Linked DNA regions of Homo sapiens. The protein of the gene in region 1 purifies or fractionates together with the protein of each later gene. This does not show direct contact. Each region holds a gene or a part of one and is shown in the gene's direction. Other genes may lie near its edges. The genes, in order: NEUROG1 and CCDC85C.

Region 1 (7,783 bases):
TGTTATTACAGGACACTAACCTTCCAGTCCAGTTCCTGTTACAGCATCTCTTAACCCCAGGTTGAAGTGTTTCTGATAACCAGCAGAGAGGCTATTTGGCTCAACCTTGCTTTTACAAAAGGGCTGGAAGGCTATGGACTCTAACTCCAAACGAGGACATACACATGGTCACTGAGACACTGACAGGGTAGAGGAAGATGCTCCGTCACAAATTCCAATCTGGATCCATCCCTGGATCTCTATGCCTACAGGCACTATAATTTGATGGTCACTTTAAAATCCTGAAATTGCCTTGTGAACAGCACAGACTCCTTTATATTTTTATTTGTTAACCACATTGATTTATTATATGTAAACTTTTATAATTTACCACCATTTCTCCCCTATTTTGGCCTTTATTTAAAAAATAATAATAAACCAAGTCTCTCAAGACCCTGGAAGCATCCAACACCTTGCTGCACCCTGAGAGTCCCTCCCTCTCACCTCTCAAGAAAGCTGTTTCTTCATCAGTGTGTCGATGCCAGAAAGGCCTTCTTGATGATGAAGTAAAATCACATCCCTGCTGGTCCCACCAGAGTCTTGAGTCAGATCCCTAGGGCTGCCTGGAACAGGTATGCCCTTAGAGCTCATCTTAGCTGTCACATAAATGTACTTGACCTGCTTCAAGAGCTGAGGCAAGCACAGGATAGGAGGGTGGTTGCTAATGCAAAATATCGATTCTAGTGTGAATAAATTGGCTCTAGGTATCAGTCAATAGTGACTTTAGCATGTGCTCCAGAGATTCTGATTCCAGGGGTACGGGGTGGGGACCCCCACCATCACTACTACCCCAGGTAACCACAGTGTAAGAAGCTCCAGCTTAATCCTTAGTCCCTTGGAACATCTGCCCCACCTTGGAACATCTGGCTACCCTCCCCTGCCCCCCAGCAGATTGGCAGCTGGATGTCCACACATCAGGCAGAACACCTGGTATGGTGCTCACCATAGCAGCGCCTGCTGTGGTTGGATTTATTACATGCCCACATCACCTTCTATTATACTCTGAGAATGAGGGTACACTCAGGTACTATGCTTAGAAGGCTTCGAGGGGCAGGAGAAACTTTCATCTTCCCTGGCAAGCATGCACATCCTTCTAACTGTGGCCTGGCCTTTTTCTCTTGAGGAGAGGCTCTGGGCCTCTTAAGCTGCCCGTTCATTCTCATCCTGCCAGGGCTCAGTTCCATCCTCAGTAGATCACTTATAGGAGGGCCCCCTGCAGATGCACTTATAAAAAGCACAAGGGGTAGGCACTAACAGCCAAGAAGGAGCCACAACATGCCCTGCCCAAGAGCCAGGAGCAGGCAGGGCAAGGCTTGGATGCTTGCCTGCTCAGCTCTCTAAGGTTCAGGAAAGGGAGTGAAGCATGGCAGGAGAAGGCACAGACCTACTGCTAGCTCATAAGGTGCGTCTGGACATATTTGACAAGGTGCCCTCTCTGAACAGGTGTAGCCCATGTCAGGGTGCATGGTTTGGCGGGTGGTAGAGAGGCTAGATTTCAGCCCTTACTTGCCCCCTCTACCAGATGTCCTTGTACAGTGAATGACTAGAACAATTTTAACAGCCCTGCTCAGAGAAAGAAGCAAGAGGAGGAGATGGAATGGAACAAGGAAGGCTGCCCTGGCCATTCAAGGGCCACCATAACTGCCCCCTTACCCTCTTTCCACTGGGTTCACCCAGAAGCCCTATCCTCCAGACCAGCACCCACATAGCCACTATAGTAACCCCCAGTCCTCTCTTTCCTTAAATTGTCTATTCGCATCCCACCCATCCTTCAAGGCCTTCGCGAGTCCCCCCTCTGCCAAGAAGCCTTCCCTTTGGGAGGTGCACAATGCTCTTCAGATCTGCTCCCTTAATAGGCCCTCGACACCTCTCTAGTCCTAATGCTACATCTCCTCTCCTTTAGGACTATAGGCCTGCTTCACACTCCACAGAGCACCTGACACAGGGCAGCATGCAGTAGGTTCTCCATGTATATTTGTTGATTGACTATGATGGAAGAACATAGAGTAGGGCCTGAAAGGACTCTTGAGTCTGGCCTAGTTTGACCACCAGCGATCCCTGGGGTAACCTGGAAAAAAGACCTCCCCATCTCCCACCTCAGTTTCCCATGTATGAGGTGCAGTGGATAGATGAATAATTTCCAAAGGTTCTGCTGGCACTGAACCCTGGCTTGCAAGACTCAGAGCCCATGATACCCATCAGCCAAGTTTATCACCCCTGTCACCCCAGTGTCCAGCACAGTGCCTGGCCCAGCACAGGCAATCAACATAGCCAATGGATTACTTCAAAATAATACAAGGATAATTCTCTATGCTTCAGCAACCTGAGGATTTAACTTGGTGTTTTATTTATGAAACCGCAGACACTAATCCTGGCTATCTGAAGCAGAAAAGCCCCACTAACGAAAGGCCCGCTATGGGAGGGCTCATGCAATCAGTGGGAAGGCTGGAGAACCAGGCTCAAAAAACAGATGGAACAAGGGCTGGCCCTGGGAAGAGTTCAGACAGGATGTCCACTGGTTCCTGGCCACCTCTTCCACCACTGGTCACTGGCTCTCCCGGGTTGTTGCCATGACACAAGTGAACTCTAGACTGTCACCAGCTCTGAGCCTAAATTGCAAATGGGGCAGCTAACTGCCTGTACTAAAATCTTTTGGCCACACCCTAATTGCTAGGAATGGGGAAGGGGTTCTCATGCATTCAAATTTCTCAACAGGAAAGCTCTTCACGTACCTGTCAGCCAAAAAAGTGACACTGGCCAAACCAATTCTCTCATTCAGGAATTTGGAAAACCATTTGTTGTAGTGGGTTGAAATAGTGGGCCTCCATAAGATATGTCCACCCAGAATCTCAGAATGGGACCTTATTTGGAATAAGCATCTTTGCAGATATAATGAAGGCAAGGGTTGCAAGATTAAATCATCCTGGATTAGCTGGGCCCTAAATCAAATGACAAGTGTCCTTACAAGAGACAGAGAAGGAGAAGACACAGAGAGGAAGGCCGCATGAAGAAAGGAGGCAGAGATTGGAGTGACACAGCTGCCAATCAATGAATGGCCAAGATGGCCAGGAGCCACCACTAGAAGCTGCAAGAGAGGCATGTCACAGATTTTCTCTCAGAGCCTCCGAAAAGGAGCCATCCCTGCCAAAAACTTGCTTACAGACTTCTGGCCTCTTGAACTGTAAGAGAATGAACTTCTGTTGCCTTAAACCCCCTAGTTTGTGGAATTTTGTTGTGGCAGTCCAAAGAAAGGAAGCTGACACAGGGAGAGAAACAGAGGTGGGGGGCAGAGAGAGGACCCTTGGGCTCCTGCTGGTTTACACAAGTCCTCGAAGCCCTTGAGTTCTTGAGAAGCCCCCGTATCCATCCAACAACTGCCCTTTCCTGAGTGAGCTGGTCGAAGCCACTTTCTGTGACTTCTAATAAATCTCGAGCCCTTATATATGACTGTGTCCTAGCCTTCCACTGAGATCAGGGGTACCTGCAGGGTGCAGTCGGGGAAGGGGACAGCTGGGCAGAGTCCCCTGAGCCAGAAGGCAAGCGCTGGTCAGTGAGTCGAGGTGGGAACTGCCACTACACAGCCCCCTTTCTCAAAGGGGCCAATCCCCCCCCAACCCAAAGAGTCAGCTAGGCTCCCATGGCAGCAGGCCAGGCATCCGGCCTGAGGCTACCACTTGGATATCAGGTGGGGGGCAGGCACTTTGCTGAAAGCTGCTCATTTTGTTTTTAATACCCTCATCCTATAATCGAGTGCTGTTCCTTACTATTTATCCTCCAAGTACAAAGTTGGGTGATGTCTGGGCCCCTGTGGCTCCTGGGTGAGTGTAGGTGACAAGAGAAAAGTAACTCCTGACATGCAGAGGGAAGACCTGCTGGAATAGGCGAGTTTAAGACACCGAAGGCGGGAGGGGGTTTGGAGGAAAGGGGTTCCACTGTCACCTGCTGCCCTCCAGGGGCCAGCTCTCTCTCGGGCCAGGGGAGCTGGATCCCCTGGCTGGCTCACCCTGAAGAGGGCCACAGAGGCTGCAAGCAGGGCTCCAAGAGACGGTGTGCAACGGATTTCTCCGGGCATGGGGCAGGCAAGGTTTCAGGAACGCCAAAGAAAAGGAAATTCTCATATTAATAATTATATTCTCATATTATTATTTATATAAATTCTCATATTATTAATTCTTATTAAGAATCTTGAGGTGACTTGTGGGCAGAGGTGCGGAGGAGGGTGGAGAAGGGAAGGGAAAGAAGGGAAGGGTGAGACCAAGACTCAAGGCAACCTGGGAAATCACCCGATCCTCTTTTCCACTCTCCTCTTCGCACTCCCCAGATGAAGGTCAGATTCTTTCCCGTTTCTTCATCAGCCTGAACGGAGCAGCGACACTTATCCTTGCCCTGCGCCCTGTGCCTCTGGCATGGCCACTCTCCAGTCTATTTGAAAATGATTTTCACCCTGTTCAGCGGATGCTGCACATTTAGTGTTCCACAAACATTATATCTGATCATCCTCCACAGGGTAAACTTTTGTCTCATCTTACAGGTGGGGAAAGCAATGCTCAGGGAAGTTAAATTACTCGTCCAAAGTCACGCGACCACTAAGCAGCTGGAGAGGGGATGCGAACCCAAACTCCAAGTACCCTCCAGGTTTCCGCAACTCACTGGGCGGCTCACACTTTCGCGCTCGCGCCCCGCCTCCCCGTCCCACCCCAGCGAGGGGCGCCCAGCCCGCCCCAAGAGGAGCGTGCCTCGGCCGCTAATCGCCCGCCGACCCCGCCTCTGTTTCACTGCCTGGAGACGCCCTGGCCAGCTTAGCCCGAGCCGACTCCCGGGGCCGCGCGACGCCGCCGATTGGCCGGCGGTAATTACGGGCACACTCCGGGTTGGGGGAGGGGCGATGGCGGCCTCCCGCGAGCATAAATTATGCAAATACCCGGGCGCTGCACGGGGATGACCTGCCGCCTCGCTCCATTCACCCGGGCTGCCGCGGGGGCGGAGGTGGCAAGGGAGGGGGGCGCCCATTGTTGCGCCGGGTACTTAAGGGGTCCTGAGGCCAGTCGTGTGCCACACTCGGTGCTCACACGAGCTGATCTGATCGCCGGCGACATCACTCAGGAGACCGGCCGGGCGCGTGGCCCCTGCAGGCGAGGCGAGGAGGCCAGGCCAAGTTCTCCGTGCGCCCCTGCACCCTTCCAGGCTCTCGCACCCGCAACTGGCACAGAGTAACAACCCCAGGCTGTTGGGAACGTAAGTGCGCCCTGGCGGCTCTGCCCTCAGTCCGGGCTGCAGCGCTCTGAGCGCCTTTCTATCTGTCCGTCGGTCCTGCACAGCGCAACGATGCCAGCCCGCCTTGAGACCTGCATCTCCGACCTCGACTGCGCCAGCAGCAGCGGCAGTGACCTATCCGGCTTCCTCACCGACGAGGAAGACTGTGCCAGACTCCAACAGGCAGCCTCCGCTTCGGGGCCGCCCGCGCCGGCCCGCAGGGGCGCGCCCAATATCTCCCGGGCGTCTGAGGTTCCAGGGGCACAGGACGACGAGCAGGAGAGGCGGCGGCGCCGCGGCCGGACGCGGGTCCGCTCCGAGGCGCTGCTGCACTCGCTGCGCAGGAGCCGGCGCGTCAAGGCCAACGATCGCGAGCGCAACCGCATGCACAACTTGAACGCGGCCCTGGACGCACTGCGCAGCGTGCTGCCCTCGTTCCCCGACGACACCAAGCTCACCAAAATCGAGACGCTGCGCTTCGCCTACAACTACATCTGGGCTCTGGCCGAGACACTGCGCCTGGCGGATCAAGGGCTGCCCGGAGGCGGTGCCCGGGAGCGCCTCCTGCCGCCGCAGTGCGTCCCCTGCCTGCCCGGTCCCCCAAGCCCCGCCAGCGACGCGGAGTCCTGGGGCTCAGGTGCCGCCGCCGCCTCCCCGCTCTCTGACCCCAGTAGCCCAGCCGCCTCCGAAGACTTCACCTACCGCCCCGGCGACCCTGTTTTCTCCTTCCCAAGCCTGCCCAAAGACTTGCTCCACACAACGCCCTGTTTCATTCCTTACCACTAGGCCCTTTGTAGACACTGTTACTTTCCCCCTCCCCTAGTCAGCAGGCAATAGATGGGGCCCCAGCTGCCGCCTCGGGACCCCCTCTCCAGGCGGAGGGAGGAAGCGGGAGCTTTAAAGCAGTCGGGGATACCTGAGCCGCTTGTTAGGTCGCCGCACCCTCGCGGCGGATGTCTCTTGGTCTGTTTCTCCGGCCCTCAGCCCAGCGCCCCTCCTGCCCGCCCCTAGACGGCCTTTCCTTTTGCACTTTCTGAACTCCACAAAACCTCCTTTGTGACTGGCTCAGAACTGACCCCAGCCACCACTTCAGTGTGATTTAGAAAAGGGACAGATCAGCCCCTGAAGACGAGGTGAAAAGTCAATTTTACAATTTGTAGAACTCTAATGAAGAAAAACGAGCATGAAAATTCGGTTTGAGCCGGCTGACAATACAATGAAAAGGCTTAAAAAGCAGAGACAAGGAGTGGGCTTCATGCATTATGGATCCCGACCCCCACCACTGCAGACTCGCTCTAGGAAGAACTGGAGACTCTTGCTTAGCTATTCAGGCACAGGGCTGGAGAGTACTTTAATTTATTCAAGATGCTTCATTCATATGAAAATGTATTTTTGTACATAAAGAGTTTATTCTATTATGAGCTATCAAAGTTTACATTTTTGTACTGCAGACGCTTCATGTAAATAAAAACTAAAAATAAGTCGCCAAGTTTCTTGCCTAATATTAGTGTCTCTGGGGCTTTTCTTGCTTTTCCCTGCTGGCTCAACCACTAAAGTGAAACACTATCCCACTCACCTCCAAAGCCTCTGTTCCTGTTTCAAAAACAATTAAAAAATAAAACGCACCTGATTTCCACCAAGAAATGGATAAAGACAGACTAGGGCATTTGGGATCTATCATTCCTTTCACCTTGTAAACACAAGGGAGATCTTTCAGGCTCCCCATAAGCCAATTAAGACTTTTTAGTAGGGAATTAGCCCCGGATCCGCAGCTACCTGTTGAGGTAGGGGCAGTGGGAGAGTCTTTCTTTTGAGGAACTCCACATCAGCTGGCTCTGTGTTTCAAAGAGAGGGGATTAAAAAGATCAATACAGTGTGACCACTGGTTAGGAAGTCCCAGTGACAGGTGGGCCTAGGCTAGGCAAGCAGAAGGGTCCACTCTTATAACAGCCTATTTAGAGGGGGAAATTAATTTGTAAACAATGCCTCCAAATTGTTGTCCATTGAGGCCGAGTTCACCCTGGCTGTGAGGTGTGGGATGAATCATGCTGGTGTGGTGTCCTGAGTGGGGTGTGTAGCTGCCTAAGATTGTGAGCTAGGGTGCCTGCATTCTTCTCAACCCCCATCCCCCCAACACACACACACACACACACTTAACACCCGCTCCGGCCCATAGTGGTGGGGAAGGGGGGGCACACAGAGGGAGGGCTCGGGTGCAGGGCTTGCTCAGCCAGGCCTCAGGGGCAATAGCTAAAGCTTTCATTTGATGCCAGAGAAATCAGCTGCCCAAACTCAGTGGGGATTTTTCTGGCTGCAGTGTGTTTGTCTGTTGTCTGACAATTAGCTAACAGCATCAGCTAGTAGCAGTTTTTGTTTTAAAATTTTAGAATGTGAGTAATTACAAGAGGTAGTTCCTAAAATGCTTTTACTATTTCCTCAGCTCACAAGTTACCCCACATTGTTAAGACCAGATCTCAGCCAGGAATGGTGG
Region 2 (8,117 bases), on another chromosome or scaffold:
TCTGGTTCCCTTTAAAGCCTTTCCTAATTCAGAGAAAGTGTGTCTAAGCCTGCAATAACTGCCCTCCCCAGAACCCCTCAGCCTGAGCTGGGGAGGGACGTTTTCTCCTTAGTTTGGTGGCCAAGTGGCCTCTGCAGACGTGTTGGGGTGGGGGCTGGGGTGGGAGACATACCCATGGAGGTGGGGCAGGGGCAGTGCAGCATGTTTTTCCTTTATTTACCATCCTGAGCCTGTGGGTTCAAGGCAGGACTGGGTTTAGAGGGATATTTTGTTACTGATTAGCAATCTATGGCTACAACTCAGGTTTCTCTTTGTAACACTGTATCCACCCCCACCTCCCACCACAGGCTGCTTCAGGGCAGTGGGAGTAGCGCAAAGTTAGGTGGTTTAATTTGCTGGGGCTGTTCAGAGCACCTCAGCCCCTTTGATTTTGCCGTCCTGGGGGCTTTTGAGGGGTCAGTTATCTGGGCCTCGGTTTCCCTAAGTGCAGTCCAAAGAGCAGATTGCTGCAGTCTCGTGGCTGGAAAGTGAAATGTTTCTGGTTTTCAGCTGCGTCATCAATGACACTTGGCAAGAGTGCCTCTCTGCAGGACACTGGAGGGCTGGAGTGTTTAGAGCATACTTGCAGGAAAGGCTCTGTCGAGTTTTGGGCAAGGAGATGCGGCCCCAGTCTGGCTCAGCATGTCAGCTGCGACAGTGAATAATACAGGAGTGGAGGACTAGGCTACACTGAGTTTTCCACCCCACTGGGGGTCAGTGGGAGGTTGAAGTATAGGGTTTCCCACAGAACCCATCCTCCCCCAAGCCCACTTAGCACAGGACTGCTGCAAATGTTGTGGCAGCAAACCTTGCTTTGGGGTGAAATGAAAATTCAGCATTATTATTACAAATTTCGGTTACAGATGGAATTATTATTATTTAGTTTTGTCTCTTAAAGCCATGTGTGGCCTTGGGATGTGGTCCCACTAATGTAAATGGAAGGCTTGGAAACCAGGAAAGGCCCTTCTCTTAGAAACTGAGCTGTTCTTTCTTTCTTTTTTCCCTTTTTTCGAGACAGGGTGTCACTCTGTCACCCAGGCTAGAGTGCAATGGAACACTCATGGCTCACTACAGCCTCAACCTCCCAGGCTTAAGTGATCCTCCCAGCTCAGCCTCCCAAGTAGCTGTGATTAGAGCCATGAGCCACCTCACCTGGTGAAACTGGGCTTTTCTATTCTGGGACTTGTAACTTTAAATTGAGCAAAGATTGGGCCTGAGCTGAGGGAGATAATGAGTCTCTGTCTGGGTGGTGTCTAAAGTGGGGTCAGACACCAGGCTTGCGCCTTATGTGTTTGGTCTTTGCTTCTTCTCACAGGAACCCTGGGGAAGCAGTATTATCCCCATTTGACAGACAAGCAAGTGGAGGCTTAGAGGGGTTCCTAGCCTTGTCTGGGAAGGTGGCTGACATTGGAAGTACCTGTCCTGGGTGGGTTTGCTGCCATGATCATCTCGTGTTCAGGCCTTGGGTCTGAATCTGTTGTGCCCTTGGTCTGTTGTCATGTTTGCTGTTACTGTTAATCAGGGGACACTGGTGACTCCCTATTCTTGATTCCTGACCCAGGTTTGCCCTCTTTCTCCCATGCTGGGAAGTGTCACTTCCTTATCAGTGACCATTGAGCAGATGGCTGATAACCCCGTTACCCAGAGGCTCAGGGTGACTTGAGTTTGAATCTCAGCTCCTCCATGTATACTGGGCAAGTTATTAACTGGCCAAGCCTCTCTGTGCTCCTCTTCTGTAAGATGGACAGAACCCAGAGTGCCCCATTATTCACACAAGGTTGAGTGAGGTCAGGATCTACACACAGTAGGTTTCTCCTGTTGTTAGGGTCCTTGGGGCTCTCCCAACAGACCTCAGTTTCCTCTTCAAAAGTGCTTGCTGCTTAGACAGCTCACCTGAATGTTTGCATCTGAGCCTCTTGTGTGGCAGCACTTGCTGATGAGCTAGTGAGGACAGTGGCCCTGCTGTCCTTTCTGGGGAGCTGGTGGCAGTTGCAGCCCTGCTGGGTGCCCTGGGCAGACTCTAGTGGCTGAGGTGGGAGGTGGCCCATCTGTATGCAAGGCAGCCCTGGCTGAGGCTGGCCTGGTGGGCCTGTGTATTGTGTATGTACATGCAAATAGGCTTTTCTCCTTGGCTGCTTATTTATTTATTTATTATTTATTTAGAGACAGGGTCTCTCTGGTCACCCAGGCTAGAGTGCAATGGCACCATCATGGCTCGCGGCAACCTCAACCTCCTGGGCTCAAGTAATCCTCTTGCCTCGGCCTCCTGGGATGTGTGCTACCATGCCCAGATAATTTTTGAATTTTTTGTAGAGACTGGATCTCACTATGTTGCCCAGGCTGGTCTCGAACACCTGGGTTCAAGCAGTCCTCCTGCCTTGGCCTCCCAAAGTGTTGGGATTACAGACGTGAGCCACTGCACCTGGCCTTGGCTGCCTTTGGTAGAGGTCTGGTCTGGGCTGACTGGACTTGGGACTGGGCTGTGCGTTGCTCTAGTCCAGTGTGGCACACTGAGACAGGTAAACCCCAACACCAGAAAGTCAGGTTCTCCTTCATGAACTGATAGGATTTTCAAACAAAAGAATTTTCAGTTCTTTTTCCAGCTGCCCCTCCGCCTGTCTCCTGTGCCCCACGACAGGCACCATGCCCCCCTCCTGCCCATTGCCAGGCATTTCCTTCCCTCCCCTGATAACCTGCTCCTCCACGGTCCACTCCCCTTTAGCCAACCTGGAGGAACTAGGATTCTAGCAAGCCTGTGCATGAGCCCCATTTACTTTTTAAAGTTCGGATTAAAATTTTGAGCTTCTCAAAATGAGACAGGTTTGTTCTCCTGCTTGTGTTTTTGTTGGTTTAAGAGGGAGGATGGAACGGGGTGGTCTGGGCCTTTAGAAAAAGACAGAGCACGCTAACTCTGAATAGGTCTTTTCTGTGCAGCAGCTCGGCTAATAAGGCTGCTTTTCCTAAACCCAGCCAAGCTCAGGAACAAAGGTCAGTGAAGACAATGGGGTGGGTTAGATAAGCCTTTCCCCCTCCTTCCCCAGCCTGTCCCAAGGGATCCATCAATGGCCTTGGGATGCTGGGCCTCAGAAAGGAGGGCTGGCCTTGAGAGGCTCCCAGGCAGGTGACCCAGGGGTGGGTAAACTGTGCCCAGTGCTTCACAGTTTGCCACAAACAGCATCCCAGTCCCAATTCCATTCTGTTCAGAGCTTCCAAATGGTCCCAGGAGGGAGACCTTAGCATCTCCATATCTTAGATGGGGAAATCAGGGCTTGGAGTGGTGGTGCGGTGACTTGCTCTAGGTCCTGTGGGGCTGATTGGGGGGCCTGGGATGCGTCTTGGGTCTCCTGTGTCAGAATTCTGAGCCCATGGCCCTGTGCCTGCTGCCCAGAGAGTTCCAGGGGAGCGGTGACCTCTGCCACAGAGACAGGGCACCTCCTCCCAGGATGCCAGGCCCGGGGCCTCATTCCTGTCTCCCTGTGTCCTGGCATGGAGGAGTGGGGGAAGGCGGTGCAGGGTGGGCCACCTTCCCTACGATGGCTGTGGCTCCCCATCTCTTGGTTTCTCCTTCCCTCACTTCTCTGCACGAGGCTGGCTTGCCACCGCAGCAGTCGCCCCACCAGACCTCTTGCTCAGGCCTGGCCTCTGAGTTCCCAGGACCAGCACGTGATACAGAAGGAAATCAGTGGTTGCTCCTAATCTGTTTTCCGCCGGTGGGGATTTTCCAATCCATGCTTGTTGCCTTCATTTGCGCAGAGAATTGGAAGTCTGTTAAGCAAGTTCCTGAGCCTCCATGGGCCTCTGTTTTCTCTTTTGCCAAGTGGGAAAATGTTACTAACCTTTGGGTTGAGGGAGGAGGGTGTGTAGTGAGTGATACGTGTAGCCTCTGGCGGGTGGCAGCCCCTGATGTGCGAAGGCCCCATCTCCCGCTGCAGCGCTCGGCACCCCGCATGCCGAGGGGCATGTAGCCCTCTGGTTAGTGATCTGCCTCCAGGGTCAGAGAGCCCTGGGTGAATCTTGGCTTTGCCACCTGCTTTATGGCCGTGGCAGCTTACTGAACCTCTAAGCCTCAGTTTCTTCATCTATATCCTGAGGCTAATAATGTCTCGATCCTAGAACTGGGCCTTAAAGGATGGGTTCCATGTCCTTTCATTATTTCCTGGCCTCTGCGGATTTGCCTTCCCTGGGTGGGAGTGGGAGATCCCCTGACACACGCTGGTACCCAGTGTAGGGTCGGAGGCAGCTGAGTCCTCATCTAGTTGAATGGAGGGAGCCAGCATTCCAGGCAGGAATAAGAATGGCTAAGGTTTGGAAGTGGGGTCTGGAGCATGGCATTGAGAATCCGGGGCCTGCAAGGTGGACCCAGGATGTGTGTGGGGAGATAACTCTTAGGGGGGTTAGTGCTGTGGGCAGCCCCACAGGGCAGACCCCAAAGTCCCAGCTTTTCAGACTTCAGTGCCCACAAGCAAGAGTGGCCCAGGTGGCCTGTGTTGCCTCCAGGGCTGGGGAGCGCTGTGTCAGGGGAGGTTGCGTGGACACTGAGAAGGGGCATTCCTGAATCCACTGAGGATGGGGCTTGTGGACACCCCAGACAGCTCTGGGAATCTGGTTGAGATGTGGGTTCTAAGACACGCCCCACATTACAACTGGGAAGGGAAAATGCCCAGCTTTGAATGTGTGTGTTCAATCCAATCTGGTTGAACCCAGAGCCAGGTGGGAAGCGGGACTTGACCTCACAGGTGGTAATTTGCTCTTCAGGAGGAAGGGAAGCGTCTGCGGACTTCACTGAGCATTTACTGCCTCTGAGGTCTGAGTGCCTCCTGAGCAGTGATTCTTGGAGTCTGGCTTGGGGGGTGGTGGTTCTGGAGCATCACTCTGGTGACCACTGTGGTGTGGGCTGGGCTGGGGGAGCAGTGGGTGGAAGCTGAGGGCTTCCATCGGGAGGAGGTTCTGGCCAGGAGAGTGGCCACAGGAGAGAGCCTTCTGTAGGTTCCAGACCTGGTGAGTCTGCTCCAAAGTCCTGCTCTCAGCTGCTATCTGCCTTCTCATGACCTCTGTCCTCTAGGGCAGGCGTCCTGAGCTCTTGGGTGGGGCTCAGGCAGGACAGCGCCTGTGGGAGATGCTGCCGCTCCCAGGTGGCTGCTGTGCCCTCCATCCCCAGCGCTGATGCTGCTCCCCGCTACTCCCATCCCTACATCTAGGGTGGTTGGGATCAGCGTCTGGGATCTAGGCAGGGACCACTCTGGGGTTCAGAATTCTCATCTCCCTGCTACATAACAACAAGAGACTCTATTGGCATCCCCAAAGGCTTGGGGATAGAGGAACAAACTTGTCTGCTAAAGGGACTTGATGCTTCTTTGATCATAACATGTCAGAAATGGTCCCCCTCCCCTAGGCAAGCACCCAGGATTGGACACTCATACATCCCCTGTCCTCACAGGCAGAGGGTTCTGGGCAGGCCTGGAGCCGGGTCAGCCGGGGATGGGTGCCTGTTCTTCAGCAGGTCACCGCTGACCTCCAGCTCTTGAGGGGAGCAGAGCAGAAAGATCAGGATTGTATTGACTGCCTGTAAGTGTTCTTGGGTTTGCCTTATGTGTACTGTTCAAACAGAGGCGTGGAGCATGTTTAACTACAGTAGATGGCCCTGGGGAGGAAGCGAGGGTCTGATTCCCTTTCCTTCTTCCTGATTCCTCAACGGCAGAGACATTCTGCCATTTCCTCAGTTCAAAGCTGGGCATTTTCCCTTCCCAGTTGTAATATGGGGCGTGTCTTAGAACCCATGTGGACATTTGCTGGCAGGTCTTCCCCTCTCTGCCCCTGGAAAAGCCCTTGAGTAGACTGTGTCTGCGGCTGATGGTATCTGAGAGTGGAACAAATGCCAGGCCCGGGAGAGCCGGAAACCCCTGAGCAAACTTCACAGAGTCCTAAGGCACTAAGAGACTTGAGAAAGACAGGGGCCCACCCCAGGGCCAGCCACATGGGTGCTGGAGCCCTCCCTGCCCACCTGGGGCCCTCTGTCATTACTGTCTCTTCATCTGGGAGTTTATGAGCCTGGGACTCTGGTCCTCTTGACTCCCAGCCTTGGCACAGAGTGGCAGGTTCTGAAAGTCTTTTGGATGGAACAAACGTGTGCCTGGCACTGTGCTGACAGCAACTGGGTTTTCTCTCACTCGCCTCCCACAACAGTTGCTGGTCCCCATTGGGGTCCCTGTTTCATCTAAGGAACAGGCCCAGGATGGTGAGGCAAGTTACAGCAGGGGCAGGGTGGGGCTGGGCCAGGTCAGGGACTCCCGTCCAGTTGAACCCGGAGCCTGTGCCAGCCGGTATGTCCCGGTTCCCTTGCCCTGTGGGTGTGATTATTCATCATGCCCCTTTCCCTCAAGGAAATGCCCAGGTTGGGCTCTTAACCTCTTCAGGTGTGCTGGGAGCTCAGAGGAGGGGTGGCCGAATTGGGAACTGAGATGGGCCTTGAAGATGGAGTTAGTAAAAGCAGAAGAGAGCAGGTAAGAAGAGAGACCAGGCTTCGCAGAAAGAACAGCTGAGCTGGGCGGATCACCTGAGGTCAGGAGTTCAAGACCAGCCTAGCCAACATAGTGAAACCCCATCTCTACTAAAAATACAAAAATTAACCAGGTGTGGTGGCACGCGCCTGTAATGCCAGCTATTTGGTAGGCAGGAGAATCTCTTGAACCCAGGAGGCAGAGGTTGCAGTGAGCCATCGCGCCACTGCACTCCAGCCTGGGCCACAGAGCAAGACTCATCTCAAAACAAAACAAACCAAAACCAAAACCAAACGAAACCAAAACAAAAAGAAGAGCCGAGCAAAGTCATGCGGTGGGCATTTGCCTGCACCTTGGGTTCAGCTGGGGTGATGGATGAGTGGGGACCCAGGACAAGCACTGGGGCAGTGAGCAAGGCCAGGGCCGGTGGGGTCTTTGAAGCCTCTTCTACTGTCCCTGAAGTCCCTAGGTTGGGCTTTCCTTCGGGGTGTGGGCAGTTCTAGCTCTAACCTTTTCTGATGGACTTTCCAAGAGGACCCAGAGTTACCTGTTAGAAGTCCTATTAGAAACTGGAAACTTTTTACAGCTTATCCCCATCTTTCCCCTGCTCCCCACCTGATAAATATGCAGACACATCACCTGCTGGGCCTGAGTGGCCTTGTCAGCTGACATGCTCCCTGCCTGGGGGTCTTGGAAGATTACTAGTGTTCTGTGGATTGGACGATCCAGACAGAACCAGTGGCTTCAGCCCACTTGAGACCCAACCATGTGTAAGTCTGTGCCTCTCCCTGGGCCCTCATTTTCCCATCTGTAAAATAGGAAGCTTGGATGGGCTGAGCTGAGAGTCCCAGGGACCCTCATCTCTTCTGGCCCTTTGACTCAGAGCCACAAGGAAGGGGTGGCCTCCCCTGCCCATCCTGCCTCCTATCGGTCACTCAGTGGTCCTATGAGCCAGCTCTTTTATATTCCTGGGAATTCTCTTCCTATGCCCTACAGCCTGGGTTTTATCACCTGCCTCGTGGTTGGTCCTTGCCTTGGGGCAGGTGTGGGGATGGTGAGGCTACCTGTGACCACATGGGTCCCACTGTGGGGCCTAGAGATGGTGACCTGTCTAAACGCTGTTTGAGGCTGAGACCCTGGCCCAGACCAGCCTCCCCTCCTGCAGGGCCCCAGTGGAAGTACCTGCCTCCCCTATCTGATTGCCTCTGCTTAAAGGACTCAGTAAGGGGTTTAGTGCAAGAGGAGAACACTGAGCTTCAATTCCTGGTGCAGGTTTGCTGGGGACAAGGCTGCATGTTCCTGGACTCGAGGTTCCTCTGCTTGCTGTCCTGTCTCTCTCCCAGTCCAGAATGTTGTTGCAATGCATAGTCAGTGTTGGAGGGAGGAGTGAACAGTCCCGGAAGGACTGACCAGGTGCCAGATAGTGGTTGACCCACTTTGCCCACCTGTCCTTCTTTTCTCATTTGTACACTTGGCACCGAGTTAAATAAGTTACTCCCCGCCCCCCGCCCCCACCCCCAGCAAAATCAAACCTCCCCAAGAGGGTGGTGATTTACACAACCCCACCTTCCCCATTTCCCC

Evidence for each region.
Region 2: the proteins of NEUROG1 (region 1) and CCDC85C purify together in Homo sapiens (co-immunoprecipitation; 2 studies listed by BioGRID and IntAct, with this or other methods). This does not show direct contact.

What each region holds. Positions count from the first base shown.
Region 1 is NC_000005.10:135,533,272-135,541,054, reverse strand, and holds NEUROG1 (neurogenin-1), read left to right. Parts: upstream 1-5,090; 5' UTR 5,091-5,364; coding exon 5,365-6,078; 3' UTR 6,079-6,773; downstream 6,774-7,783. UniProt on the Homo sapiens protein: Acts as a transcriptional regulator. Involved in the initiation of neuronal differentiation. Activates transcription by binding to the E box (5'-CANNTG-3').
Region 2 is NC_000014.9:99,593,958-99,602,074, reverse strand, and holds part of CCDC85C (coiled-coil domain-containing protein 85C), read left to right. Parts: intron 1-8,117. UniProt on the Homo sapiens protein: May play a role in cell-cell adhesion and epithelium development through its interaction with proteins of the beta-catenin family. May play an important role in cortical development, especially in the maintenance of radial glia.